Linked DNA regions of Homo sapiens: region 2 is linked to region 1. The links come from fine-mapping of genetic effects on gene expression. A gene starts in region 1. The other region holds a variant in brackets. All regions are shown on one strand. Distances are from middle to middle.

Region 1 (15,839 bases):
TTTTCTATTTTAGTAGAGACGGGGTTTCACTGTGTTGGCCAGGCTGGTCTCAAACTCCTGGCCTCAAATGATCTGCCCGCCTCAGCCTCCCAAAGTGCTGAGATTACAGGCATGAGTCACCACACCCAGCCCCAAGAATTTATTATGATATACATGGTATTTGAAATCCTTGGTGAAAGGATGGATTTAATAAATGGTTCTGGGATAACATATTAATTCTTTGAAATAAAAATAGATCTCGCCTTCAAGCTAAAAACAAAAAATAAATACTAGATTGGGAAAAAAAAGGTGAATTATGTATATATTTTGAGGTGAAGAGCACCTTCATTTACTAACGACAGACACATAAATAAAAACTAATAATAAATGGGGGAAAAAAGATTAGACCATCATAAAAATGTGCCAAAACCCAAAAATTCAGCCTTACAAACATACAAACATACATACATATATACATGTACAGATTCTAGTGTTGGTCAGGCTATAGGAAACTGACATACTCATATAATGCCACTGGATTACAAACTGGCACAACTTTTTGGAGGTTAATCTGGTAGAATATATTAAGGCTCAAAAATGTGCAAATCCCACCAGCATTTCTACTTCCAGGTGTGGGAACTGAATCACTGTGACCGTGGTCCTCAAACTTTAATGTGCATCATAATCACCTTGGGTTTATTAACTCACAGATGGGAGTACTTTCAGAGACTCTGATCCACTGGGTCTGAGGCAGGGCTTGAGAATCTGCCTTTTAACAAATTCTCTAGGGATGCAGAAGCTGCTGGAGCTGGGACCACACTGTGAGTACCACTGCAACAGGAGCATGGCAGATTACTGAAAGCAACAGTGAGAGGTGGCCTTTTCCCTCCTTTGGTAGTGGCAGGAGACATGTTTGGACCAATATGGATTGGGCAGGGCAGGGGTGGGCGAAAAGGAGTTGAGTCGATTTTGGAAACGTTGAACTTGAGGTGAAGGCTCTACTATCTATTCTTATAAGGGCTCCAACAAATACTTCTTGTTTCTGAACATCTGCACTTGCCAGGGACCTTGGACCTCTTTGCTTCCATGAAAGTACATTTTCTAAAACCTGCTTTCTCCAGGAACCCTTTCCAGATTAATTTTACTTGACTGCATTCAGACTTTTCACTTCTGATCATTCAACAGCTCTCCATCTGTTTTTTAATTTTTTTGTTCTTATACTGATTTTGCACACTTCTATGTTAGCATTAGGTTTGGCATGAGTAACAGAAATACCTAAACTAACAGTTTAAAACAAGATAGAAATACATTGCTCTGTCATGCGAACAAGCTGGACATAGGGAGTCAAGCATCAGAGTGAAGGCTCTATAAATACCAGGACCTGGGTTCCTTCTGTCTCACTACCCAGCTGTGAGAGGCTCATTTCCAAGGTCACCCTATGGTCCAGTATGAGGCTGGAGTGCCAGCTATTCTATCTTCATTATAGCTCCCATGTCTGCATTCTAGTTATCAAGAATGATGACTTGATAAAGGGCATTCTCTCTTTCTTTAAAAACACTTGCCCAGGGCCAGGCGCGGTGACTCACGCCTGTAATCCCAGCACTTTGCGAGGCTGAGGTGGGCGGGTCATGAGGTCAGAAGTTCAAGACCAGCCTGAACAATATGGTGAAACCCCGTCTCTAATAAAAATACAAAAATTAGCCGGGCATGGTGGCACACGCCTGTAGTCCCAGCTACTGGGGAGGCTGAGGCAGGAGAATCGCTTGAACCTGGGAGGCAGAGGTTGTGGTGCGCCAAGATCGTGCCACTGCACTCCAGCCTGGGTGACAGAGCAAGACTCCATCTCAAACAAAACAAAACAAAAACACTTGCCCATAATCTACAATGATTTCAAAATAAAAGTTTAAACAACAAAAACAACAATTCCCCTAAGTTGCACACATCATTTTCTACTTATATCTAACTGGCTAGACTTAGTCACATGGTCACCTAAACCAACAGGAAACTGGTAAATAGTCTTCATTTTGGGGAACTGTGCGCTCAGTTAAATTCAGAGAATTACTGACAAATAGTTAAATGGACATTTCTAGACAACTGGAAGTTTCTGCCACAGTCCCTATAGTGTATTATGTACACAGCAGCCAGTGACCTTTTCAAAATACAAATCAGATCACATCACAGCCTTGCTTAAAATCTTCCAGTAGAGTCCCATTATAGTTAGAACAACTCTGTGCCCCTTACTCTGACTTCGGAGGTACTATGTGACCTGGAGCCTGCGTGTCTCTCTGGCCTTCCGAGCGCTCTCTACTAGAACACAGGCCGCCTTCCCATCACTCAAAACACATCAAGCTAATTCTTGCCTCAGGAACCAGCTGTGCCTTCGGCCTAGAATCTCTTTGGCTGATTCCTTCCTGTTGTTCAGGTCTTGTGAGGCTTTCCCAATTTCTAAATAAGCGCTACATTTTCTCCTTCATTTTGCTTTACTTCATTATTATATTACCTGGTATTTTGAGTCTTGTTGGTTGTCTGTCTCTTCTCACTAGAAAGAAGGGCCTTGTCTGTCTGATTCACTGATGCATCTCCACAGCCTAAAAGACTGTCTGGCCTCAACAGTATTCAATACAGACACGATGAACACATGGGGGTGACTGAGCGCGACTCCAGTGCATCTTCTTTGTAACCGCAAACACATAGCACAGTAACTGACAGGCACACATCTTGGATGAACAAACAGTAGCCACACATGTGACCTTGCTTTTTTAAATGCGAGCACAAATCAGGGGATGGGAAAAGAACTGAGATTCCCCCCCACCCTCCTGAGATACCCTGCCACCACTGTTATTTTCCTCAAGCTGGCTCAATTTACCTTTGTTAGTAATTAAGTGTGTCTCTTTCTACATCTTCCTGTGTTAAGCAACTCAGTGGTAAACATAAAGCTTTTAAAATCCAACACAGAGAACCACCTACCTGGTCTCTCTGCTCATTACCATTTCCTATAATGACAGCAGAACAGAGTTCAATTAGAGTCCACATACTATTTGACATGGCAGTCACTTGTTTTTGATAAACTATGTTCCAAAGAACAAAAAAAGTACCCAAATTTAATCAAACTCAATCATACTTTACTAGTTAAGAACAAAGATGGATGGTGAACTTTGGGATCACTCCAGCCTACATATGCTAATGACATGCCAATCACTTTAGTAAGAAAGAGTAACTCTATAGCAGAAGTGCTTTCTCTTTCCTGCAGAATGTGACAAACTCCTCCTTAGTCGAGCTGATCTGAGATGGCGCTTTTGTAAGCTGTATTTTAATTACACATCAGTCCTCCTGACTGTACAGTGACTACCATCACCTTCTAACATGATCAGGTCATATTTGAAAGACTACTTGGTATCTTCTAGTGCTGTAATTTCCAATGTTACTCCAGGCATATTTAAACCAACATGTCTTAATGTCATTTTGATTAGAAAGGACTGAACTTTCAGATTAGTATACCCTGTAATTTTGGAAGCAATATAACAAACCCGTTGAAGTGTCAGTTCTTGGAGCCACCCTGGTGTTTGAGGTGACTGAGAGGGCAAGGCCTCCCACCAATCACAGCAACTCTGTTCTGTTGTCCTTTTTCCTTTTTTTTTCAAGTGCTTCCTCACAAAAGTTCCTCTGAAGTTTGGAAACCATTGGATTAGACCACCTCTTAAGATGCTCCTTTCCAACTCAAAGATCATAATAATTTCAATCTCCAGTGCCTCAGGGAGACGTATTTCTAAGTATAAATAATTATTCTACAGGAGCGTAAGTTGAAAAATGATAGGAGATTGTGCTGGATGGGTGGTACCCCAAGAGAAGGAGGTAGTCTATTGTTTTAAAATTTCAGATATGAACTTTATTTCTAGTCTATCATTTTTCTATCTTTTCTAAAAAGGACTGAAAATGGCTTTGATTTCAACTTGTTTTGTCATGCAGGGTTTTTCCTAAATAGTGATTTTAATTTCAAAATGAAAGATAAACCAGATTGCAGTTGAGGATTTACTACAAAAAAACCATTATTTAATAAGACTTTTCAATTGACAGTGTTAAAACAGTTTTTCCCAACCCCTGGAAGGAAAAGCCAAAAAGTTGATTTTTAATAAGGCTTTAGTATTAAAGGACAAGTTTTTCAGTACCACACTTATTTCTGTATAACTAGTTTATAGTCCTGGGTGAAATGTAAGAATGAAAAACGAGTTAATACTTGCACCGTCTCAGACAAGATTTTTAAATACAGTGCCAAGGAATATTTTTGCTGTTACATTACAAATTTAACCAGTTTCTACAGCTTGAAATATTGCTGAGTCGAACAGATTCTCCTGAAGCAAGTGTGCAGAATAAGAACAAAAAATGGATTTATAATCCTCATGTAATATTTTCATGAGACTATAATGCTTAGTTAACCTTGACAGAAGATTAACTCGAATTCTGTGAGGCCTAGAGTGATCACAGCTAAAAGTGAATTTTTTAGTTTCAACAACATAGGAAAGGTTTAAAAGCCTAGTAAGGTTATTCTTTTGTCTTAATGGCTGAAAGTAAAACAAGAATAATCAGTGGCATCTTAAAGAACTAAAATTACTTTCTACTTAAAATCTCACACACTCATTATGGCTGATTTATTTTAGTAGAAACTGACCATAATATTTCAAACAAGGCTTCTGTGGGTAATATCCACAATTATGTAAATGTTAAATAGCTGCTTCAGATAAGAACCTCTTTGATGTTAAAGCAATTCACTTTATAGGATAAAAGGAAAACTTCTTCATGCCTTGGGGCACACAATGAGTAGTTTGTAATGGGAAAGGCCAGTATCTTTTTAAAGGCAACTTTTTAAAATTAAAATATTGATTTTTAAATAAATTATACATGCGTTTGGTAAAAAAAAAAAACAAAAACAAAATCAAGTGATACAAATGGGTGTGCAGTGAAACCAGTCTTCCCTTCATTCCTGTCTTTTAATCCCCTAGATTTCCGTATTAGAATCAACTACTGTTAACAATTTATTGAATCTTTCCAGACCAGTTATTGGCATTTACAAGTTGATACCACAGACGACTTTAAAAATAACTTGCTTTCTCTCTAGGAAGCCGCCACCAATAGCAGCAACAACAATAATAATTCAGCTTGAGCTTTAAAAATACTCCAGCATGTAAAAATAGTGTAGGCTAACACTGAAAAAAGAAAAGCCAGACACTATATTGTTTTCACCGTAGCTCTGCCATCACCAGAATCCTTTCCTGAAAGGTACAACACTCAACGCTTCACCACGATGGCCAGAGAGGGCAGTGTGCACCCACGGGAAAGGCAAAGGCAGAAACGCTGCAAATCCCTTCACCATTGGAGGAGGCGCTACCAGCCCCTACCCTATCCAGCTCGATTTTATCAAGTTCTGCAGGTAAAGCGGTGTGACAGATCTACGCGATTTCATCCGGGGGTGCTCTCGGATGCACGGTCAGTAGCATGCTGACAACCTTACCGTAGTGAGGGCGCAATCCGACAACGGCAGAAAATTCAGATAAGCAACACGATCAGAAATCCTAGTGTGCATACGGTTTATCACGAAAGAGTAAAAACATTCCTTTCCCAGGAATGACTGTAAAAATTAGGAGTTAGAGATATGAAAGCCACAGGATGAATTTCAGAGTTGTTTTCAATTGTAATAAAGAAATCACTACGGATTTACGGTTTGTGAAATATTCATCAGCTAGAAAGTCCTAGGTTACCTTAGTACAAGCTGTAGATACGTTTACAGTGGGGTAGTTAAACGTTTCGAATTACTGAAATCTCAATTACGAATTTAGGAATATGTGGAGAGTAGACAATGTGTCCAATTAAAATCAAAAGCAAAATTACACTGAACTTTCTAATAAAACAAATTTGAAAAAAGTGCTGTTAGGGAGCAGGAAAAAAGTCACTCTACAAATATTAAGATACAGTGCTGAGTTATACATAACACCGTTAATAATGCCTCAGCCGTACCCTCGAAATTTTTAAAAAAAGAACATGTTACGACATTACAAACACGTCAGCTTTCAATTTAAATCAGCAGGGGGAAAAAGGGAAGTCCTTTACTGAGTGGTGGTGCTGTTTTCCCTCTGGAAATTGAAAAGACGATTTATTCAGTCCGAGTTTCAGGAGCAACTTTGTATCCCAATCCTAATTATCTATGTATATAAATTTTCATCTAAATTACCACCTCCTGGGAAATGCAAAGCCGGTGGAGTAGGTTTTAGAGCTCTGTGCTCTGGACAAGCCAACTGTTTTAATTCCCAGTACAACAAATTAGTAAGAACCGAACACCAGCGGCGGGGAATTCTGAGACCTCTGGCGGAGCGCGAGGAGCGCCGCGTCCCGGGAAGCACCCGAGCAGCAGCGCTCCCCGGGGGCCGGGACAAGCCGGGTCCGCGGCGCCCGCGCGCCGCCCCCGGAGCCCGCAGTGGTGCCGCAGCCTCCGTGGCCGCAGCAGGTGGGACCCGGCTGGCCCAGCAGGCCCCGTTCCCCGCCGCGAGGTGCAGGCGCCGCGGGGCTATTCGAAAACCACTGCACGACGTCACGGCCGCGGCTTTTATTGTTCTCGTGGAATTACTTTTTGCCATCACATCTGGAGAAAGAGCGGCCTCCGCTCCACGACAGGAATCTCACAACTTTGCAAAGGGATGCGCGGAATTCTACGGAAGCGGCGCGAGGGCGCAGCCCGGAGGGCCCTGCTGGGCCCAGGGGCCTCCTGGCCGCCTTCCCGACCCGATCCCTCTTCCCACACGCGCCCCGCGAACGTCGGCCGGACTCGCAGGGGTCGGAAGCGGCGCGCCCGGAGAGCCGGCGGAGCCGGGCAGGGCTCGCGCCCCGCGGTCCGCTCCGAGTAGCCGCGAGCCCCGCCAGACAAAGAGGCGCGTCGGGTCCCGGGCGCGGGTAAGGGACGCAGAGGCGCGGGCAGGGCGGCGCGCCAGCCTCGGCCCGCAGGGGGCGCCGTCCGTGGCCCCAGCCCCGGTCCTTACCTTTGAGGACCGAGCAGAGCCGCTCCAGGGCCATGTTCCCGAGCTGCCCGGCGCTTCGCGAAGGGCTGAGGTAGCGGCGGCGGTGGCTCGGCGCTCACGGCTCGGCGCGGCGGCGACGGCCCCACTCCGTCCCCATCGCCGGCCAGCAGCTGCCTCCCCGCTCCCCTGAGGAGAGCTCAGGTCCTGCGGCCCGCCATGCCCGAGCCCCACAGTGGGCTCCCGCGCGGCCCGAGCACCCCGACGGGCGCCGCCTCCTGCTCCGCGGCGCCCCGTCCCATCGACCGCCCGAGGGCCGAGGAGTGCGGACGCGCGGCGCGGGACCGGCAGGCAGCTCCGCCCGCGGCCCCGGCGCGGGATCCACTGAAGTGGCGGGCGCGGGGCGCCCAGGCTCATTTAAGGAGGGAGCGCGAGCGCCGCGTGCCGGCTGCGCCGCCTGTGCGCATGTGCCCGCCCCGCCCCGCCCCGCGCCGCGCCTCGCGCGCCCGCCGCGGCCTCGCGCCGTGGGACGGCGTCGCTCCCCGCCGGCTGCCGTTAGGGCTGGGAGCCGGCTGGGCGCGGGGGTAGTGAGGGTGCCTCTCGCCGTGGCTGCGCGGCGGCCTCGTCCGAGAGGCCGGCGCCGGGGCAGTGACCGGCCCGTGCCCAGCCGCCGCGCAGGGCGCCCGGGGCAGCTGGCCGAGCCCTCGATGCCTCCCGTCTGACGGAGGCGCCCGGGAAGCGCCGCCCACCTCGGCCCCGCACCCTCGCCGGCCTGCCGGGTCTCCGCCAGCCCTAGCAGACAGAGAGGGGCGCCGGTCCCTAGTCCCCCAGACCTCCATTCAAGGTCAAAACTTTGCCCAGCTCAGCCTTGCTCGACCCTGGGCAGGGAAGCGCGGACATCGGCAGAGGGAGCCCGAGGCTCTCCGTGCCCTTCGCGCCGGTGAGTTCCCGACCCGCGGCGCTGCCGGCGTTTCCCTAGCGCCCGCCAGGTTGACAGGCACTTTAGTACCAACTCCTCAGACTCCCCCTCATGAAGTAGGTTTTAGGGGATTGGAAAGTCGAGGCCAGAGAGGTGAAGCCCTTCGTCCAGAGCCGCGTAGCGAATGAGCGGCAGGGCTGTGCACCTCCCCCGGGGCTGCCCTCCTAGCAGCTAACCACTACGCTGGGCAGCTTCGCCAGCTGATGGGAGTCTCCAGGTCTGCCAACAACTGCCTGGCTGTTGGTGGTATTCATGATCCTGCTTTATTTTCTCCACAGCGGTTATCACACTGATATGACCTTCCTCATTTATTTATTTGTTCATCCTTTATATCTCCCTCACCCTCACACCATTAAAATATCAGCTGCTTGCAGGCAGGCCGACTGCATTCATTTTTTTCACTCCACACATACGTATTGGGTGTTAATTATGTGCAGAAGACAATGATTGGTGCTGGAGATAACAACCGTGATCAAGGCCTTACCATAATAGAATATTTATGCCTGTCTCTGCGTGTAGTAGGAACTCTGTAAACGTTTGTCTAACCAATTGTAGCTAAAGACAATGTCAGGCAACTGAAACATTTTTCAGGTGTTAAGCTCTTCTCTCTCACTTTGTATTCCTTCAAGAAAGGTACAAAAGCATAAATAATTCATGAGATTTACAAAGGAAAAACATACTTAACACCAATTAATATCGAGGTGTTTCACCCTTTGCCATGTGCTGTGAATGGGGGCATAAAAGATGGGTAAGTTTGGGTTCCTAAAGGTAACCACCTACTACAGTTAAGATCGCACACGAGAACCAATTAGGAAATAAAACATTTAAGAACTTTTTCCCACGGATATGAAAAGGTGGCTCACGCATGTAATCCCAGAACTTTGGGAGGCTGAGGCAGGCGGGTCACCCGAGGTCAGAGGTTTAAGACCAGCCTGGCCGACATGGTGAAACCCCATCTCTACTAAAAATACAAAAATTAGCTGGGCGTGGTGGCACGCGCCTGTAGTCCCAGCTACTAGGGAGGCTGAGGCAGGAGAATCGCTTGAACTGCACTCCAGCTTGGGCAACAGCGAGACTCCGTCTCAAATAATAATAATGATGTAGCATATTAGTAGAATAGGAGAGTAAGAAGACAATATTAAGTATAGGTTACAGACAACAGTGAACCAAAAAAATTTGAGAGGAAGGGGCTCTCAAATTAACATAATAGTTTCTTAATGTGAAGTTGTTGACTGAAGGAAAAATCTGCGTGTCATGTCATCAGAGAAGACTTCCTGAAGGAGGTGACACACAAACCATGGAAATGCTTGGGGTGGCGAGAGGAGAGGAGGCAGAAGAAGAGCTCAGCAGGCAGGGAGCAGGATGAGCCTGGAACGTGGGGCAAGTGTTGTGTTTGGTATAAAGAGGTTGGACATGGTGGGCTTTGATTATGGAGATAGGTGCTCAAATGCTAGTTAGGTAAATGATTACTTTTAATAGTGCAGTAATGGAGTTCTGGGAAGATTTCATCTGGCAGTTGAGGTTGTAATAAAAGGGGAGAGATTAGAGCAACCACAAGAATTCCAAAAGTAGATCTGTAATACTTCTACGTTTACTTTAGAAGCTCTTACTTGTATTATTTTGATTAAACCTAAAAAATCTTTTTTCCTCTAGAATGTTGGCTTGGGAGTAGATTCCAATTGGGAATGTTCATTTTGTGGCTCCCTTTTAAGACACCTATCTTTTTTAGATGTGCTGGTGGAATCGTCTGCAGTCGATTTTTCGAGGAATGTAGGAAAGCACAGATCATAGCTGAGACTACTGTGTGGCCATATGTTAGCCAAATCAAAAGGGAAGCGTTTTCATATCTCTCACTTGGGTTCTGTATTTGAATTATTATTTTCCTGGAAGATCACCCAGTAGCACCCAGTCTGTTCCCAGATTACCTGGCAGTTTCCAGGTGACTGAGGGCTCGGCTTTCCTTGCATCCTGCCAGTCTCCCAGGCATCCATTCAGGCTCTCCAACTCCTCACAATCATTCCTATAGTTTGAACTGGGTTTTCTCTGACCAAGTCCCATGTAGTACTTGAATGGTATTGCATGGCATTTACTTGTTACTAGAATGAACCTTGTTTTTTTTTTTGAGACGGAGTCTCACTCTGTCACCCAGGCTGGAGTGCAATGGCTCACTGCAACCTCCGCCTCCCAGGTTCAAGCGATTCTCCTGCCTCAGCCTCCCTTGTAGCTGGGATTACAGGCGCCTGCCATTATGCCCGGCTAATTTTTTTTTTTTGTATTTTTAGTAGAAACGGGGTTTCACCATGTTGGTCAGGCTGATCTCGAACTCCCGACCTCAGGTAATCTGCCTGCCTCGGCCTCCCAAAGTGCTGGGATTACAGGTGTGAGCCACCACGCCCGGCTGAATGAACCATTTTTTAAAAGGAAGCATTTTATTGTCAATATTTATACACTTAACAGATTTTTGTTGTGTCTCTGTTTTGCTATTGTTTGGGAGTGTTAACATTTTATTACATGACAGCCGAGGAAAGCAGGTTGTTGCGTTTGGAGATTGTTACTTACTGTCTGTGTCCCCTCCTAGTTCATATGTTGAAGCCCTAACGTACAGTGTGGCTGTATTTGAAGAGGAGGGCCTTGAGGGAAGTAATTAAGGTTAAATGAGGCCGTATGGGTGGGTCCCTGATCTGAAAGAAATAGTGTCCTGATGGGAAGAGATATCAGAGAGCCTGCTGTCTCTTCATGCACAGGCACCAGGAAAGGCCATGTGAGGACACAGCAAGAAGGCAGTCATCTGCAAGCCAGGAAGAGCATCCTCATCAGAAACTGAATTGGCTCCTGCCTTGATCTGAGACTTTAGCCTCCAGAACTGTGAGGAAGTATGTCTGTTGTTTCAGCTACCCAGTCTATGGTATTTTGTTGTGGCAGGCTGAACCAGCTAATACAGAGATTATAACTAAGGAAGGTAGAGGAATTTAAAAAGAACCAAACTTTTATGTGCAGAAACTATTTGTAGTAAAATATAATATGGATCTTTACAGGGTGCAAATATGGCTACAGCAATGGTGACATTTAGTGAAAAACAATCAGGTGGGTTCTCAGTATATGAAGATTTCAGTGTTTATTACACAACTGTAGGGTTTTTTTTAGGGAAGGAAGAGAGGAAAATTGTAATTTTTAAAAAGTGCATTCTGTTAGTCTGCTCAGGCTGCCATGGCAGAATTACAGTGTAGCTATAGACTGGGTGGCTTATAGTGTAGAAATGTATTTTCTCACAGTTCTGGAGGCTGGTTTCTGCTGAGGCCTCTCTCCTGGCTTGCGGACCGTTACCTTCTCACTGTGTCTTCAGCGGCCTTTTACTCTTTCTGTGTGCACCCCTGGTCTCTTCCTCTTCTAATAAGGACACCAGTCCTATTGGATTAGGGTCCAACCCTTCTGACCTCATTTAACCTTAACTATTTCCTTAAAGGCCCTGTCTCCAAAAAGTTATATAGAGGGATAGGGCTTCGACATGTGAATTTGCGGGAAACACAATTCAGCCCATAAAATGCAAGAGCCACAATCATTCCTGTGTTATTGATATTGAAGAAGAGCTGTCAGGGGGTCAAAGAATTCTTTCAGTAACACTGTCCCCTAAACTTCTAAATTTCTGGTTAGCATAATTTTAAAGAACGCTTTTAAGAAATATTGCTTCCTATTAATATAAAATATTTCATCTTTACCAGGAAAATTTCAAATTGTCAAGAAAATTTCTGGTCATTAGTTACTTTCCTTTGATTGTGAAAAACTAAGAAATGCCCTAATTTTAGTCATGTGCTGCATAATGACCTTTTGGTGGATGATGGACCACATACACAACTGTATAAGCTTATAATACCATATTTTTACTGTGCCTTTTCTATGTTTAGATATCATTAGATATACAAATACTTACCATTGTGTGTAGGAAGTAATTGCCTACACTATTCAGTACAGTCACTTGCTGTACAGGTTTGTAGCATAGGAATAATACGATAAACTGTAGAGCCTAGGTGTGTAATAGGCTACACCATCTAGGTTTGTGTAAGGACACTCTATGAAGTTTGCACAATGATGCATTTCTTAGAATGTATGTCTGTCATTAAGTGACATATGACTGTGTATTTCTTAGAATAAAGTTACTAACATATATGGTATCTTTTTTTTTTCTTTAAAACCAAAATCCCATGTTGAAAAGAGATATGTTTGCTTAAACCTATTTACTTTCTAACCTGGTGTTCTTTCATTGAAATCAACACCCCCTCCTCCAAAAAAAAAAACCTATTTACTAAAAGCTGAAACAAATGCTAGTTTATTGGTGTAGTATGAAACCATAAGTGTAAATTCTTGATGCAGTTATTTGGTAATGTTTGTTAAATAATAAAAATTGTTAAAAGGCCTTTCATATTCCTCTGCTCTGTGGTGTTACCTCCTTCCTGAATCAGACTTCCATGTGTATGAGTCTTTCTCTGCACTCTCTAATATGTTCCATTGGTCTGTCTATCTCTTCACCAATACCGCACTCTGTTAATCACCCTAACTTTTTCTTTCTTGAGACAGAGTTTCGCTCTTGTTGTCCAGGCTGGAGTGCAATGGCATGATTGGGTCACTGCAACCTCTGCCTCTTGGGTTCAAGCAATTCTCCTGCCTCAAGCCTCCCGAGTAGCTGGGATTACAGGCTTGTGCCATGACGCCCGGCTAATTTTTGTATTGTTAGTGGAGACAGGGTTTCACCATGTTGGCCAGGCTGGTCTCGAACTCAGATGATCCACCCGCCTCGGCCTCCCAAAGTGCTGGGATTACAGGCGTGAGCCACCATGCCTGGCCTAATCACCCTAACTTTATTATTTTGTTACCTGGTAGAGCAGGTCCTTATTCTTTTTCAAGATTGTCTTGGCTGTTCTTGGTCTCTTATATTTCCGTGTACATTTTAGAAACCTCTTAGCAAGCTCGGCAACACAACACCCCGTTGGGATGAGTGGAATTGGGAGGGCTTTGACATCTTTACAATTTTGAGTCTTCCTGTCCATTAACATGGTTACAGATGTGCATTTATTGAAAATTTCCTTAGCGTTTCTCAGAGAAGTTTTATAATTTACCAGACAGAGATGTATGCTACATCTTGTGTTATACTAATTCCCAGGTACTTGACTTTTTCGATGCTGTTATAAATGTTACCTGTTTTTAAATCCCATTTTCTAATTGTTCATGCTGGCGTATAAAAATGCAATTGATTTTAGAAAGTGCCAAACTGTTCTCTAGAGTGGCTTTCCTATTTTGCATCCCCACCAGCAATATATGAAAATTCTAGTTTTTCCTCATCCACATTAGCACTTTGAATTGTCAGTATTCTTTGTTTTATCCATGAAAGCACTTTTTATTCATGATAGATGTGTATTGGTATCTCTTCATAGTTTTAGTATTCATTTCCCTAATGGCATATCCGGTTGAACATCTTTTCATATGCTTGTTTGCTACCTATATATCCTCTTCAGTGAAGTATCCTCAAATTATTGCCCACTCAAATTGTTTTTTATTTTTACTGGTGAAAAGATGTCCATTTAGAATTAGCCAGCTGGACTCAGTTTAGATGATTCCAATTTTGTTGGCAACATCCAAAGCATCATAAGCAGGAGCCAGTCAAACACACGCCTTCTCTCCATTGGGCCTGATTGATCAGGCTACATCAGTGTTGCAGAGCTTCCCCACATCCTGTTTGCTCTGGTGCTTGTTGGCTTTGCCATCCACGGTGACCTCAAGTGTGTTGTTATCTTCTGTCTTCTTCATGGCACACTCAATGCTCAGGGAATCGGGCAGAGTGATGAAGCTTGTTTCTCCTGGGGGCACTCTTCTGAGGATATCTGGGTTGTCTCTAGAGCTGTAGTGTTTTGGGGTGCTGGAAGGTGGGTGAAGTGCAGATACTCCTTTTTGTGTGTGGCTGTGGATGCTTTCCAGCACTGCCTTCTTGGCCTTCAAAGCTTTTGCTTTGGTTTCAGCTTTGGGAGAGGCAGGAGCTTCCTTAGGTGTCATCTTGTCTGAGTTTTTGTATTGTTGAGTTTTGAGAGTTCTTTATAGATTCAGGATACAAGTCTGTTGTTGGATATGTGATTTGAAAATATTTTCTTGGCCGGGCATGGTGGCTTATGCCTATAATCCCAGCACTTTAGGAGGCTGAAGCGGGTGGATCACTTGAGGTCAGCAGTTCGAGACCAACCTGACCAACATGGTGAAACCCCATCTTTACTAAAAACACAAAAATTAGCCAGGCATGGTGTCACACACCTGTAGTCCCAGCTACTTGGGAGGCTGAGGCAGGACAATTGCTTGAACCTGGGAGGCAGAGGCTGCAGTGAGCCGAGATCACACCACTGCACTCCAGCCTGGGTGACAGAGCAAGACTCCATCTCAAAAAAAAAATTTTTTTTTCTTTGCATATATAGCTTGTCCATTCTCTTGGAAGTGTCTTTGTCAAAGCAAACATTTTTAATTTAGATGAAGTCACATTTATCAGTTTTTAAAAAGAATCATAACTTTGGTGTCATTTCTAAGAACTCTGCTTACCCCTAGCCTATGAAGACATTCTATGTGTTCTTTTAAAGTTTTATAGTTTTACATTTTATATTTGAATTTATGACCCACTTTGAGTTAATTTTTGTGTAAGGTGTGAGGTTTAGATCAAGGTTCTTTTTTTCTCCTTTGCCCTTTGTATTTATGGCAAATACAGATGATCAATTGTTCTGACACTATTTGTTGAAAAGACTGTCTTCCACTTAGTAACTTTTACATCTTTGTCAAACATCAAATGTCTATATTTGTGTGAGTTTATTCCTGGACTCAATTTTATTCCATTGGTCTATGTGTCTCTCTTTGCCAATACCACACTATCTTTATTACTCAAGCTTTATAATAAGTTTTAAAGTCACATAGTTTGATTTCTTCAACTTTGTCTTCTTTTTCAACATTGTTTTAAACTAGTCTAGTTTATTTTCTCTTTCATATAAGTTGCACAAAATCCTGTCCATGTCCACAAAAAGATACTGCTGGGATTTTGATAGGGATGGTGTGAAATGTACAGATCACTTTGGGGAGTACTGGCATCTCCTAATCCATGAACACACTGTCTTTCCATTGAAGTCTTCCTTGGTTTCTTTCATCACCTTTCTTCTTTGTTAATATGTGCATTTAGTGTTATAAATACCACCCCCCAGCACTGCCTCCTACAAATTTTGTTACATTGTATTTTTCATTTGGCTCAAAATATTTTAAAATTTCCTTTTGAGACTTCCTCTTTGACCCTATGGTTATTTAAAATATCTGGGTATTTTCCATGGATCTCCCTAGTTCAATTCTATTATAGTCTGATAATCTACTTTGTATGATTTCTATTCTTTTAGATTTGGTAGGACTTGTTTTATGGCCCAGAATATGGTCTATCTTGGTAAGTGTTCCATGTGCTCTGAAAAAGACTATTTTGCTGCTGTTGGTTAGAGTGTTATATAAATAGCCACTAGGTTAGATTGACTGAGTGCTTTTCAGGTCAGCTCTAAGCTTTCTGATTTCCTGCCTACTTTTTCCTTCAGTTACTGTAGAAAAGTGTTGATGTCTCCCACTTAAATCGTGAGTTTGTCTGTTTCTCCTTACAGGTCTGGCGGTTTTTACTTTTTAGTTTATGAACACTTAGGATTTTTATGTTAAGAAGAGGGGCCTGATCTTGGGTGAGTCTGCTCTCCAGATGAGGCTGGCAGATGAACAGTGATGACACTCCCAGAAATTAGGATAATAAGTCCTTTATTCTTGATGCCGGATCTGGACACTACACCACAGCATCCACTAGAAGGAATATTTAGGGTTTTGTTTCTTTTTGAGTA
Region 2 (15,839 bases), 78 kb before region 1:
TGTGTTCACCACCCGGGAAGCTCTCCAAACCCTGCAGCTCAGGGGTTTTTATGGAGGCTTCATCACGTAGGCATGATTGATTTTTAACTCACTCTCCAGCCTCTCCCCTACTCAGAGGATGAGGGTGAGGTTCAAGGTTCCAAGCCTCTAATCATGGCTCTGGTGATCAGCCCCATCCTGGCACCAATCCAGAGTCATCTTGTTAGAACAAAAGATGTTCCTACCAACCAGGAAGTTCCAAGAGATTAGAAGCTCTGTGTCAGGAACCAGAGTCAAAGACAAATACAGTTGTCCTTCTGTGTTCATGGGGAATTGGTTCCAGATGATCCCCCTCCACTATAACCAAAATCTATGGATGCTAAATTCCCTGATATAAAATGGTGTAGAATTTGCATATAACCTATGTACATTCTCCCATATACTTTAAACAATCTTTAGATCAGTTATACCTAATACAAGCAAATAGTTGTTATACTGTGTTGTTTAGGGAATAATAACAAAGATCTACACAGTGTTCAGTACAGATGCAACCATCCTTTTTTTGTTGTTTGTTTGTTTTTGAGGCAGGGTCTTGCTCTGTCACCCAGGCTGGAGTGCCGTGGTATGATCTCAGCTCAGTACAGCCTTGACCTCCTGGGCTCAATGGATCCTCCCACCTCATCCTCCCAAGTAGCTGGGACTACAGGCATGTGCCAACACGCCTAGCCAATTTCTTTAGTTCTTATAGAGATGAGGACTCCCTTTGTTGCCCAGGCTGGTCTCAAACTCCTGGGCTTAAGGAATCCTCCCACCTTGGCCTCCCAAAGTGCTGGCATTACAGGTGTGGGCCACCACACCCACACCTAGCCCATTTTTTATTCTGAATATTTTCAATCAGAGATTGGTTGAATCCATGGATGCGGGACCCATGGATATGGAGGGCTAACTTTATAAGACCAAAAGATATATCTAGCATCCCTACCACTCAGGAAATTACACGGGTTTTAGGAGTTCTGGCTAGGTGCTGGAGACAAAACCCAAAATATATACTTTTTATTATATCACAATTATCACAGTCTGTGAAATCATGTATTTGATGAACTCACTGTATTTTTTTTTGAGACGGAGTTTTGCTCTTGTCGCCCAGGATGGAGTGCAATGGTGTGATCTTGGCTCACTGCAACCTCTGACTCCCTGTTTCAAGCAATCCTCCTGCCTCAGCCTCCCGAGTAGCTGGGATTACACCAGCTAATTACGCCAGCTATTACGCCAGGCACACGCAACCACGCTCAGCTAATTTCTGTATTTTAGTAAAGACAGGGTTTCACCATGTTGGCCAGGATGGTCTCGATCTCCTGACCTCGTGGTCTGCCTGCCTCGGCCTCCCAATTTTATATTAAATATATAACTATTGAAACAAAGTAATTCATGTTGCATTTCACCTAAAACCTCCCATCCCCCTAGTGGCAGCTGCCATTCTTTGGAAACTTGGCTTGAGCTTTGGGAGAGGGATGAGGGCGGAGTGCACATACGAAGTCCTTTTTGCCAGACTGGGAGCTGGGCAAGGACAGACTGTGCCCAGTCCTGTGCCTGGCACACAGAAGGTGCTTATGGCGACACAGTGTGGATAGAGGAAAAAGCACAGTCTCACATTCAGATCCGGGTTCAAAAACTGGCTGTGCTCTACTGTCTGTGCAATTTAAGGGAAGCTAACCTTGGTTTTCCAATATGTACAATGGGGATACCACCTGTCTTACAGTGGTGCTGGGAGGCTAAGTGGGATGGTATATCCAGGACTTAGCACGGAGTGAACTCTTAATAGATGCCAATTTCCTCTCTTTCTCTCTCCTGGTATTTTATTAACCAATTGGTGCTAAGCTGTTAGTGAGGTAATACGGCCATCTCCTTTCACAAAGGAATCTACATTTGGCCTCAAGGATCAATCTGAAGTCCTGGGATGGCAGGGATCAGCACTATGGTGGAGAGGCACTTAGGCTTGGAAGGTGGCCCCTATTGGGACCACAGTCTCGGTTTTCACAATGGCTGATCATGGCTGCTTCTGGCCAAAGAGGCAGGAGTTGCAATGGGGACCGCCTGCTTGTGAGCTCGCAACCTCAATTCTTCCAGGGGCAGGGTGGGTCCTACAATCTGGCAGCAATAAAACTGATCACAGGACTGAACTGAGACAGTAGGGAGTGGTGGTGCTTGTGGCAAACTGGAGAGTGCCTAACACATTCAAGCCCATCTGAAAGCAACACCACCATTACACTGGCTGAATGAGGAAGTCTGACCAGGCCAGGTGCCTCTAGTTGGAAACCCTAGAAGGGTTATTCCAGGCAGGAGTAATATTCACAATATTTACCCCCCAGAAGGCCTGGTTAAGAGACGCCAGTAACTCCCCATTTCAAGCCTCTCCACCACCTAAAACTCTGGGTAGAAGCAGGAACGAACTTTTCCCTGGGCCCCGAGGCCTGAAGCTGCCATGTTCTGCAGCCATTTAACACCCAGTCCATAAACAGTCGCCGCCTGCTGTACCCTCCCTGGGCTACTCTCTGGGCCTCCTTCCCTGAGGTCCAGCAGCTGGGAAGTGACAGCTTCCAGGCTGTGTGGGATCCTTGGCACGTGTGAGCTGCTCCCTCTACCCCTGGGAAGCCACATCCAACCCAAGCTGGCCTGGGCTGACCTCAAATCCCGGCCACCCTGCCAGAGGCGGCTTCCAGTCCTCGTTCCTGGAGCTCAATCAAGGGATCTGAATCCTTTTACTTCCGCCTCTCGAGCTCATGCCCGTTCCTGAGGGGAGGTTGGGCTTAGCAGTTGTGGCAGTAGCAGGCTGGGTGCGACCTTCTCTGAGAGTTGGCCTCCTACACCCGGGGTCACTGGTAGGACTGAAGGAGATGCGGATCTGCTTGGCACAATGAAAGTCCCGAACGTCAGGAAGGGAATCGTGCGGCTTGTAAAGCCACACGATCCACCGAGCTCTAATCATGCCACGAGGATGATCTGGCCCCTGCCCTGATCTCCTGGTGGGAAGCGTCCCTTACCCCTGATGTGCTCTGGTTTGGAAAGTGCTTCCACGTCTACACTCTATGGGATCCTGTTCACTGCCTCCAATGTAGGCAGGGCAAGAAACGTTCTATTTGTGTTGTAGGGACAAGCGGTCAAGGGGCTTACTTAAAGTCACATAGAAAGGTGAGGACAGAGTTAGGATGAGAACGCAAATCTCCTGGCTCCCTGGCTTTCCTCACTGCCTTCCACCCCTCATCCCACCTAAGCCTCCATCTCACCTCTCACAGCCCCCTGCTGGGGAATGCGGCGATAGGAATAGGCGCACTCCTCCCTATGAAACTGGTAAATGGTGGAGCTAGGAGAGGGAGCAGTGAGCATTTGAAACCCAGTAAAAGACTCGTATTTCAAGGCTCACAGAGCACTTCGTGTGTGATTCTCAAAGTACACCACCTGTGATGCAGCCCAGCCAAAAATGTGTAACTTGAATTCATTAAGTAGGGGATCCAACTAAATGACACCACATGGAAGCAACCAGAACATGGGGTGCCCTGCAAGACAAGCGGCCCAGCCTCTCCATGTTTCATCTCATAAAAGGAACACCGTGCTGGACTAAAAGACAGAGAAGGAAGGTAGCCACCAGGTGCAGTCTGTGGTACTGGATTGGACAGTGGTGTGGATGAAGTGGCTGTAATCAGGAAAGTCTGACTGTCATCTAGGTATTACATGGCAGGAACGTGTATTAAAATGGAAGGGAGACTGTGGACTGAACAAAGTGAGTTAGGAAGCTCCATGTTATCAGACAAATCCAAAAGGAGGATGTTCTGCAAAACAACTGCCTGGGCCATTCAAACATGTTAATCTCCTAAAGGATAAAAAGGCAGGGGAAATTGCCATAGACAGAGTGTTGCTGTACCCCAAATTAATATGTTGAAACCTAATCCCCACTGTAGGGTATTTGGAGGTGGGGACTTTGGTAGGTAATTAGGTCACAAGAGTGATGTCTTTATGAATGGGATTAGTGTCTGTATTAGTCTGTTTCCACACTGCTCTAAAGATAATACCTGAGACTGGGTAATTTATAAAGAAAAGAGGTTTGACTTACAGTTCCACATGGCTGGAGAGGCCTCAGGAAACTTACAATCATGGGGGAAAGCAAAGGGGAAGCAGGGCATGTCTTACATGGCAGCAGAGGAGAGAGAGCAAGCAATGGGGAAGTGCCACACTTTAAAACCATCGGCCCTCATGAGAACTCACCTGCACAGCATGGAGGAAACCACCCTCATAATCCAATCACCTCCAACCAGGTCTCTCCCTTGACACATGGGATTACAATTTGAGATGAGATTTGGGTGGGGACACAGAGCCAAACCATATCAGTGCCCTTAAACAAGAGGCCCCAGAGAGATCCTCCACCCCTTACACCATGTGAAGACATAGTGAAAAGACAGCCATCTATGAACCAGGAAGAGGGCCTCACCAGGTACTGAATCTGCTGGTGCCTTGATCTTGGACTTCCCAGCCTCTAGAACTGGGAGACATACAGTTCTGTTGTTTATGAGCCACTCAATTTATGGTATTTTTGTTATAGCAATCCAAATGGACTAAGACAGAAATGTTATAATTTAAAGGAGACTGAAGAGACGTGATGACTTAATGTAACATGTGACCCTCAATCGGATCCAGAAGATATGGAGGTGTGCCACCCAGATACCCCTGCAACGGGCTGCCTCCTACCGAGAATGTGGCCAGCAGACGGCCCCTGCTATTTGCTCTTCGGGATCTGCTTTGGCTGGAGAGCTGCCTTGCCCAAGGTCAGCCCCATGCATACTGATTCAGGAGGGGCCATCAAGGCCCTTCTGGCTCCATATAAGACAATGTGATGGGCAATTCTCACTCCAGAGCTTCCCCATCGGGTGGACTGAGGCTGTGTCAGGCCCATGTGGCAGTTCTTCCTCTGCTCAGTCCTGCTTCCTTTCCCAGGCACAGATGCCTCATGAGGCAGAGCTTGCAGTGAGCTGAGATGGCGCCACTGCACTCCAGCCTGGGCAATAAAGCCAGACTCCGTCTCAAAAACAAACAAACAAACAAACATTTTGTACCCCCAATCCATCTTGGTGTGAACTCCTGAATAACCCAACCTTTAGTGCCAACTGTAAGGGACAGGATTAGGAGGTAAGGATTAGGCAATTAAGGGACATTGAATATTAACTGTGTATTAGTTAATAATATTGTATCACTGTGAAATATGTTTTTTTTTTTGTTTTTTGTTTTGAGACTGAGTCTCGCTCTGTCACCTAGGCTGGAGTGCAGTGGTGTGATCATAGCTCACTGTTGCCTCAACATCCTGGGCTCAAGGGATTCTCCTGCCTCAGCCTCCCAATTAGCTGGGACTGCAGGTGTGCACCACCACGCCCAGCTAATTAAAAAACTTTTTCATAGAGATGAAGTCTCATTATGTTGCCGAATTTGGTCTCAAACTCCTGGGATCAAGCAATCATCCTGCCTTGGCTTCCTGAAGTGCTGGGATTACAGGTGTGGGCCACATGCCCAGCCTAAATTTCTTGGATGTGATAATTGTGTGTGGTGTAGATGGACATCCTTGTTCTCAGGAGATACATGCTGAGGTATTTAGGGGGAAGGGTCATGATATATGCAACTTAGTCTCAAATGGTTAATCTCTCTCTCTCTATATATGTATTACTCTATATGGGTCTCGCTATGTCTGGACATAGATATAGAGAAATCTATATAGACATTGGGGAGACAGACAAGACGAACGTGGCAAAATGGCACCAATTCATGAATGGGAGCCATTTTTTCAATTTATTGTAGGTTTGACATTTTCACAATGAAAGTTGAAAGGAAAAAAATCAATATGTATGGTGTGGCCTCATTTTAGTAAAAACAATACACATATATATTAATACACAGAAAAATCTGGAAGGATATAGACGAGCTATAGTGGTAGTCTCTGAGTGGTTGGAAATGTGTTATTTTTATTTGGGGATCATCAGTATTTTCCTGTTTTCTAAAATTCACATATATTGCTTTGGTAGTGAAAGATTATTAAAATAATTAATAAAGGCCTATGGTGCAGGAAAAGGTGGCCTCCTTTTGATCCAGGAGGGCAGTCTCCTGGAGCAGGGGCCGACGTCTCTGCTTCTCCCAACGAGTGAGGTGAAAATCCCAATAAAGTCACTTTCTCCATTGGCTGTTCCAGCCTCAGACCAAATTGGCACTGGCTTGATGGGTAAATCCACAGTAGGGAACAGCTGAGGTTGGCCTCCTGGTGGAAGGTGCTGGGTTAGTCCAAGGCTCAGGGCGCCCAGAGCTTGTCTATGGCCACAGTCACATGCAATTTTCAATTTCCAGTTCTGCTGGTGTGGGGAAAGTGTATGGGTATTGCTTTGAGTTATAACTATAGTTGAATTTTTTGTTTTTCCTTTTTGAGACAGAGTCTTGCTCTGTTGCCCAGGCTGGAGTGCAGTGGCGTGATCTTGGCTCACTGCCACCTCCGCCTCCTGGGTTCAAGCAATTCTCTTGCCTCAGTCTCCTGAGTGGCTGGGATTACAGGCGTGTGCCACCATGCCTGGCTAATTTTTGTATTTTTAGTAGGGATGGGGTTTCACCATGCTGTCTAGGCTAGTCTTGAACTCCTGACCTCAAGCAATCCACCCACCTTGGCCTCCCAAATTGCTGGGATTACAGGTGTGAGACACTATGCCCAGCCTATAGTTGAAATTTTTTTAACCCTTTTTTAATGCCTCTAGAAGGAAGATTTTAAAAAAATTTTTTTTTTTTTTTAATCGTTATGGTTTATGTTGCCTAGGCTGGCTTTGACCTCCTGGCTCAAGCGATCCTCCTGCCTCAGCCTCCCGAGTAGCTGGGATACAGGCATGCACCCCCCACGCCTGGCTTTTTCCATTCCTCTTGTGTGTTATTAGCCATAATCGGTTCTGATCTTTTTGTAAACTTGAAAAAAATCATTTCCCTCTTATCACATGTATTTCAGTCTGAGAAAGCTTTCTCTGCAATCCTTGGTTTACAGGGGATATTACATTCAAATACTGGTAGTGTGAACTCCAGAACTGTGGGAAACTTCAGCACTTTCTCAGTCCCCCACCCATGGCTGAGGCCCACCCTGAGGGCTCTGGTGAGCCTGGGGGTGGCACCACCCTTAAGGGAAGGGCTTAGGGAGGCCCAGAGCTGGGTCTGGGAGGGGCTCTGCCAGGGAGCCCGGAGAATCAGAACTGTCATTAAGAGCCGCAAAGGCTGGAGGAGGAGAGGGAGAAAGGAGGAGGAGTGAGACTGGTGGCAAGGAGGGGTAAAAGCCAGCCAGGGGAGGGGACAGAGGTGGGAACCTCGCTACGCTGAGCTCATGTGCCAGGCCCCCCCCACCAGTGCCGCCCCCCTCGTCTCTGCTTCTCACCCCTTTCTTTGACCCCACGCTGCTTGTTATGCCTGCCTCAGTTAGAACTCTTGTTTTTGTGGCCCATCCCTGGGAACCATCATCAATCAATCAGCAAATATTTGCTGCCCCTTTCTTAATTGCTTGGTGTTTAGAAGAAAGCTTTTTTGACAACTCAGCATGATAAGCACAGCGTGTAATTATTGGCTTCCCGGGAGCAGCTCTTGTTTCACACAGAGCATCTTTTTAGCCCTTTCATCTCTTTTGCTGGCCTAGGACATTCTGATGACAAACCTGGATGTGTCAGCATCATGTTTAAGGTGAACTTGGAGAGCATGGGGTCTTTCAGGCCTGTGTTGGCTGGGTCCCTGGGCACTGGGTCGGGTCTGGGTGGGAGAGTGCTTGCCCAGAGCAGCAGCAGGCCACACAATCCAAAGCGTGAGACACTCACCCGGATGTCTCCAGGTCCTGCACATACAACACAGCCCACTTTGAACTCATCATTTGTTCTTCAAACTATCTGGTGTTCACAGAGCCCTTCTCTGAGCACTAGACTGGTTTAGGGTCTTGCCACGTGTTCTTGCAGGCCCTTCTAATTCCTATCACTCATCAGATTTTTATTTTATTTTATTTTATTTATTATTATTTATTTACTTATTTTTAGAGATGGAGTCTCACTCTGTTGCCCAGGTTGGAGTGCAGTGCTGCAATCATGGCTCACAGCAACCTCAAACTCCTGGGCTTAAGTGATCCTTCTACCTCAGCTTCCTGAGTAGCTGGGACTACAGGCATGCACCACTGTGCCCCGCTAAATTTTTAAATTTTTAGCAGTGATAGAGGTCTCCCTATGTTGCCTAGGCTGGTCTCAAACACCTGGGCTCAAGCAATTTTCCCACCTCAGCCTCCCAAAGTGCTGGGATTACAGGCATGAGCCACCGCACCTGGTCTCTTAGTATTCTAATTGCTTAACAACCTTCTCTAAGGGCACCTAAGTTCACATGAACAGGGACCAGATCTACCTTGTTCAACACGGACCCTTTATACTTGGCAGTTGGTAATGCCCTGGCAATATTTGTGGAATGAATAACAGAATAAAAGTTCAAGCCACAGTTGAAGAAGGAAGCCAGAAATCTGTTCAGAAGGGAAGCAGCCTCACGTACAGGCCCATGGCCATAGCCAGAGAGAAAATGAGGGACAGCGAGCCACGGTCAGGTGCAGGCTGGGAGGTGACACCAGGCAACCATGGTTTGGGCCATAAACTATGGGCAGGGGAGAGCGCTGGGATGTGGTCACACAGAGAACAAACCTCATGGTGAGCTGGGCAGCCTAGAGACACACTCCCACCGATCACCAGCCAGGTGTGGCTGAGTCCAAGAGACTGAGGCTGTAGTGAGCTATAATCATGCCATGGCACTCCAGCCTGGATGACAGAGTGAGATCCACCTTTAAAAAATAAAAATAAGAAATAGAAATAAAACCCCAAAAAACTGAGTTGTGTTAGGTTGTTATTTTTATTATTTTCAGGTCAAAGAGTCTTGACTAACACAAAGGCTTTGTTCTAAAGGAGGGAAGGTGATTGTAGTTTTGTCCATTCTGTCTTGAATGAGAAGGAACATTATCCCCAAGGGCATACTGACCAAGATCAAGGGAGCCCCAATATTGTATGGCTCGGGCTCATTGATTTCTTTTCAGGGCTCTCTGCGCTGCATTCCCACTGCTGACATGAGCTGTGGCATTTTTTCCATCAAGTGGAATCTGAGTCTCTCAAGTCTTTGGAGTTATTTGAAGAAACTGAGGTCCTTTCATCTCTTCTGGTTTCCTTGGAGCTTGTTCTATTCCCTTTCATCTCCAACTCATTAAGATGGAAAGGTGTAATGGCGTCAGATCCAGGAGTCTGGATGTGCATGAAAGTACACAGGCGATTCTGAGCAACCTCAATAGTCATCTATGTTCTACTTCCTTTAGCATCACAGGCTGCTTCTCTTTTTTTAAAAAAAAAATATACCTGGGTGAGTGGGACACCAGGTATGTGCTAGAGGTACAGGAAAGGGGCTGTTTACATTTAGTCAGAGGCACAATGGGTTCCTTCTTCCTTTCTTTCAGCAAAACCTTCATTTTAGCCCACAGTTCCCAATTTGTTGTGCACCTGAGGAATGCCCCCTGCAATCTGAGTCTTACGGTTGTTAGGAAGTCTGCTCACCTCCTCCTCAGCTGGTCCCTCTCCTCCTTCAGAAAAGCGCTGGAAGCGCTGCAGGGCCTCCCTGCTTGAGTCCTTCCTGGTCAGTCAATCCAGCATTTGTTGTTTCTCATGTGCTCTTTTATTTCTTTGAGTCCCCAGTGGACGATACATTAGTTGGGGGCAAGAACAGTGTATCCCTAGATTTCCTTTAGGAACATCACAGAAGGCCAGGCAGTGATTCAGGGTTTTAATCCCAGTTACTCGGGAGGCTGAGGTGGCGGGATCTCAGAAGGCCAGGCAGTGATTCAGGGTTTTAATCCCAGCTACTCGGGAGGCTGAGGTGGCGGGATCTCTGAAGCCCAGGAGTTGGAGGTTGCAGCGAGCTATGACCGCAACACTGCACTCCAGCCTGGGCGACAGAGTGGGACCCTGTCTCTTAAAAAAAAAAGTATAGAAAAATAGGGAATGAGGGGCTCAGGGCAGTTTAATGGATGCTGGGGCATGTCAAGAGTTTTATCATCAATGTAAGGAAACTGAACTGGAAGAAACTTACGCTGCAGTATGTACTTCTAGGTTACAAAGACTGAGAGCTGTGACCCACTTTGGGTTTTCTCTTCATACAATGCATAAGAAGAAATAAAAGATGATGTTTCTCTAGTCTCTACTTAGTTTATCTTTGCTCTAATTTTTATTATTTATAATATTATTTGATAATATTTATATTTCCTTCCTTCTGCTAACTTTGGGGTTAGCTTGTTCTTCTCTTCCCAGTTTGTTTAAGTGTGAAGGTGAAGTTAGGTAGCTGGTTCAAGATCTTTTTTTTTTTTTTTAATCTTTTTAATTTTTGGAGAGGGTCTCGCTTTGTTGTCCAGGCTGGAGTACGGTGGTGTGATCTTGGCCCACTGCAACCTCTGCCTTCTGGGTTCAAGCAATTCATGTGCCTCAGCCTCCTGAGTAGCTGGGATTACAGGCATGCACCACCACGCCTGGCTAATTTTTCTATTTTTAGTAGAGACAGGGTTTCACCATGTTGGCCAGACTGGTCTTGAACTCCTGGTCTCAAGTGATCCAACTGCCTTGGCCTCCCAAAGTGGTGGGATTACAGGTGTGAGACACTGCACCCGGCCTAGAGAGCTTTATTTTTAAAATGTGTTTACTACTATAAACCTCCCTCTGAGCACTGCTTTTACTACTTCACATAAGTTTTGGGATGTTGTGTTTTCATTTTCAGTTTCTGTTTCAAGATACTTTCCAATGTCCCTTGTGATTTCTTCTTTGACCCACTGGTTAAGAGTGTTAATTTCCACATATCTGTGCATTTTCAGGTTTTCCTTCTGCTATTGATTTCTAGTTTCATTCCATTGTGGTTTAGAAAAGATATTTTGTATGATTTTAAACTTCTTAAATTTGTGAATACCTGTTCTGGGTCCTAATGTGTGTTCCAGCCTGGAGCACATCCTGTGTGCCCTTGAGAGGAACGCGTATCCTGCTGTTGGTGGTGACAAAGACTCCTTAACTAAACGTCAGATTCCTCCGG[C/G]CTTCTAGGCCTCAACCTTGGAGTCTGTCCTTGTTCAGGCCTCCGTCACCCAGCTGTAGCAGAAATCTTCATAAGTCAATGTGGAGGACCCCCATCCCCAACCTCAGTATCTAATCACCCTCGATATTGGCTCGAATTCTTCTCCCACCCCTCACCCCCAGGTAATGCCTGCCCACTCTAACCTGCCTTTGGGGAGAATCCTGTTACATCTGATGAACCAGAATCCCTCTGCACCCCTCGCATACTCTCCGTAATTTTCCACCTGCTGCCCCCACCCTGCTCCTGGCCACCGTCCCTACTTGTTCATGCTGTATTCGGAAGTGAGCCCAGTTCCACACTGAGGGCTCTTTCCCCAACAGCAACAGTTCCTGAATAAAATCTGTCTTTACTGCTTTAACTACTGTCAGGCGTGGTTTTTTTAAAATTGGGAAGAGGATGGTTTTGAATATTCACATAAATGTGCCAGTGCCCACACAGGCTCTTTTTGGGCTTATCTCTTAGCATTTGCAGATAAAAATTGTGCTACGTAACTTCACCACAAACTAGTCAACCCATCACATCTGAACAAAAAGTCAATGGCGACGTGCAGCCAATGCTCTTGGGGGTCTGTCTAGAGCTCCAGGGGGTTGGCAGGAGTTGTGGGCCCCAGGAGGATGTGAGATCAAACTGAAGCTCTTGATGGTATCTCTCTCACACTGTTGAAATGACCTTCTGGAAGAACAAGAGGCCCCTTGATTGCTTCTTGATTTGACAAAAATAAACCATATAAAAAAGATTTCAGGACAAATAATTTAAACAGACATCCCTCAAAAGAAGACATACAAATGCAACAGGCATATGAAAAACTGCCCCAAATAACGAATCATCAGATAAATGCAAATTAAAAGCACAATGAGATATAACTTCACACCTGTTAGAACGGCCATTAAAGGAAAACCCTGCACACTGTAGGTGGGCATGTAAATTAGTACAGCAATTATGGAAAACAGCACGGAGGTTTCTCCAAAAATTAAAAAAGTGGATCTACTATATGATCCAGCAGTCCCACTCTGGGTATTTTCCAGAGGAAATGAAATCAATATGTTGAAGAGATATCTGCATTCCCATGTTTACTGCATAGCACTATTCACAATAGCCAAGATACAGAATTTACCTACGTGACCATCCGTGGAGGGAAGGATAAAGAAAATGTGGTGTGTGTGTGTATATATGCATACCCACATGGGATAATAGTATCCCGTTACATATAATAGGATACTACCGAGCATTAAAAAAGAAGGAAATCGGGCTGGGTGCAGTGGCTCACACCTGTAATCCCAGCACTTGGGGAGGCTGAGGTGGGCGGATCATGAGGTCAAGAGATTGAGACCATCTTGGCCAACATGGTGAAAACCCATCTCTACTGAAAATACAAAAATTAGCTGGGCGTGGTGGCATGTGCCTGTAGTCCCAGCTACTCAGGAGGCTGAGGCAGGAGAATCGCTTGAACCTGGGAGGCAGAGGTTGCAGTGGGCTGAGATCGCACCACTACACTCCAGCCTGGTGACAGAGCGAGACTCTGTCTCAAAAAAAAAAAAAAAAGGAAATCGGCCGGGCACCCCAGTGGCTCATGCCTGTAATCCCAGCACTTTGGGAGGCTGGGGTGGGCAAGTCACCTAAGGTCAGGAGTTCGAGACTAGCCTGGGCAACATGATGAAACTTAGTCTCTACAAAAACTGCAAAAAATAGCTGGGCATGGTGGCATGTGCCTGTAATCCCAGCTACTTGGGAGGCTACGGTGGGAGGATCACTTGAGCCCGGGAGATCAAGGCTGTAGTGAGCTGTGATGGTGCCACTGCACTCCAGCCTGGGAAACACAGCAAGATCCTGTCTCAAAAAACAAACAAACAAACAAACAAACAAAATGGTTAAATTCGTTAAAAGAGAAAAAAAAAGAGAAAGAAAAACGCAGGAAAAGAAACCATAGAAAAAGAGCAGGCAAATTTTTAAAAGAACTAGGCCAGGTGCAGTGGCTCACACCTGTAATCCTAGTTTGGGAGGCCAAGGTGGGTGGATCGTTTGAGCTCAGGAGTTCGAGACCAGCCTGGGCAACATGGCAAAACTCCGTCTCTTAAAAAAAAAAAAAAAATTAAAGGGACTAAATAGGATTTCTGGAAATAAACAATATAATCATTCACATTAAGTACTCATTAAGTACTCATTGGGCAGTTACACAGAAGATGAGACGTGGCTAAGAGAAAATGTGTATCACAATGAAAATATGAAGACATGGAAATACTGAAAGTTAAGAAACATGAAAGAATTTTCCAGAATGATACTTATCTTTAGACTGAAGAAGCATATGGAATCACAAGAAAAATATAAAAATAAATACACATGTAGACATATTGTAGTGAAATGGCTAAACAATATTGTGGAATCAGTTAAGTGGGAAAAGACAGATTAAAGATATGGGAACTTAGGTTTATAAAAGAAGTCATGATCATGATCATGAAATAAGCACTGTGGGAAAGGAACAGTCAATGCAGTCTTTCATACCCAGATAAAGTATCATACAAGAAGGAGGAAACAGGGATTTTCCGAAAAGCAAAAACTGAACAGATCACCCAGCAGTGTCAATAAATAATTTTTAAAGGAAGGCAGAAGGAAAGTGATCCCAGATGTAAGGTCGGAATGCAATAAAGTATGGAGAGAAAATGAGCAGATAAACATAGAGAAAAATCTAAGTATTTACCATAAAAACAAAAACATTGGGGTGGGATAATGGACTCAGCTCTGTCTGCTTAATGCCATTGTGCAGAGAAGTACCCTAATGCATAAGCTTTTTAATGCTGTAAAATATAATAGCTGAAATTAAATGCCACTTTTTTCAGAGGTGAATTAACGGACAGTCTGGTGAAATTCACAAGCTTTTTGATGTATAAAACTTGATAAATGGAATGGGTCCATCAATAGGCAAAAGTGTAGCAATGTATCTAGATGAATAGTATGTAATTTCTGCACAGGTCTCTGTTTAGTAAATACATCACTGTATACCAATCAGGAATCTTGCTCCAATAAAGGAACATAAAGATTTAAAAAACTGGCCATTTTGGGGAAATATAAAAAACAAGTAACTAAAATACTAAATGAAAATAACATAAGATGGAAGAGGGGTGAATACGGCTCAGGCGTTGTATGGTTCTTGTTTTGTTCAGAAAGAGGGTAGAAATAGCAACTGTAGATTTGATATAGGCATGAGAAACTCTGAAGATCAGCCACAAGTGTTAGAGAAACAGCAGTTAACTTCTAACTAATACCCGCAGGGGAACGATCACCACCATGGTCAGGATCTCTGGGGGAAAGTAAAGCCAGGAGAGGACCGCAGTGGGGTGTAATTGTGTTTACAGACATAACTTCTTTAGCAGGGTCCAGGTATGTTGGTACTCATTGTTCTCCAAACCCTTTCATAAGTTTGAAATATTTCTTTAAAGTAGAATTCAACAGTTTTTAGTGTAATTTTGTTTTCTATAGCAGTGGTTCTCAACTGGGCTTGACTTTGCCCCTCTCCTTCCCTGTATCACCTTCTCAGAGGAGACTCTGGCCATGTCTGGGGACAGTTTTGCTCATCACTGCTGGGGGTGGTCTGCTGCCCCTTGCAGTGCACAGGCTGGCCCTCCCACCGCGAGGAGTTACCCAGTCCAAAACATCAGCAGTGCTGAGCTTGAGAAACCCTATCCTTTAGGATCAGAATATGTGTTTTTTCAAAAGTTAGATTTTCTCCTTTGCTATTTAAAAATAAATGGAAAAGCAGAAATAACACATGGTGACTTTGTAGCACTTTTCATGTACATAATCAGTTTCAGAAAGTAAAAATGCTTGATGAAGTCATCAGGAAAATCCCCAACTTCATAAATGGGCAGCATAATATTTTAAAGTGTTAAAAATTAATCTTTGGTTGATTGCTAAAGTAGCATGAACATAGCCACAACTATGGTGGGATGCTCTTGATTGGAGTTTCTTTATAAGATGAAGTTTCCAAGAAACAGTTAATTGCTTTCAGTTTCTCCATCTTCAAGAAAGGGACAAAAAGGTAACTGATGAAGCTGTTTCTGTTTTCTTGCTAGTGGAACATTAGTATTCGACAGTAGTACTGTACTAAATTCTGGGGCTGCTACTGAAATGTCATTAAATCCCAACTTTACACATCTGGCACGCTGCCTAAATGCAGCTCAGTGTGTTAAAGCGTAGATTACAGTCCAACAAATCAATGCTCTCGAATTGTGGGTTTATGTAAACCTGCAATTAAAAACAGTGTGCAATCACTTTCTTTGCCTACCTGATGAGGGGAAGAGAAGCAAGCTGTTTTTTTTCAGGGCAAAGAGGTGAGAATGCCAGCTTAAAACAGAAGCATTCCCCGGCGCATGCTTTAAGACATGGCTTTGGATAAAGGCAGTTTCTGGCTGGGCATAGTGGCTCGCGCCTGTAATCCCAGCACTTTGGGAGGCTGAGGCGGGTAGTTCACCTGAGGTGGGTAGTTCACCTGAGGTCAGGAGTTTGAGACCAGCCTGGGCAACATGGCAAAACCCTGTCTCTACTAAAAATGCAAAAATTAGCTGGGTGTGGTGGCACACGCCTGTAATCCCAGCTACTTGGAAGGCTGAAGCACAAGAATAGCTTGAACCCGGAAGGTGGAAGTTATAGTGAGCTGAGATTGCACCATTGCACTCCAGCCTGGGTGACAAAAGGAG

Alleles and levels. Positions count from the first base shown, and alleles are read on the strand shown. Sizes are in standard deviations (SD) of each study's normalised expression.
With allele C in place of G in region 2, the expression in monocytes of the gene that starts at base 7,371 in region 1 is higher (large effect, 1.5 SD a copy in Quach 2016).

What was found. PIP is the estimated chance that this variant, and not a neighbour inherited with it, causes the effect.
Region 2: its variant is fine-mapped to the expression of NETO2 in monocytes (Quach 2016, PIP 0.95).

What each region holds. Positions count from the first base shown.
Region 1 is chr16:47,136,575-47,152,413 of GRCh38, forward strand. It overlaps NETO2 (neuropilin and tolloid like 2), which reads right to left and starts at 7,371. Exons shown (of 9, transcript NM_018092.5): 1 at 7,005-7,371. The coding sequence starts at 7,038. ITFG1-AS1 (ITFG1 antisense RNA 1) reads left to right here and starts at 7,494. Exons shown (of 4, transcript NR_110904.1): 1 at 7,494-7,920. It also overlaps the pseudogene RPL23AP72. RefSeq lists silencers at 5,375-5,464, 5,475-5,524, 6,352-6,501, 6,672-7,511, 7,572-7,901.
Region 2 is chr16:47,058,717-47,074,555 of GRCh38, forward strand. No RefSeq gene overlaps it. Among named protein-coding and RNA genes, the nearest start is that of NETO2, 77 kb to the right of the region's middle. The variant C/G (reference allele first, on the strand shown) is at 11,110.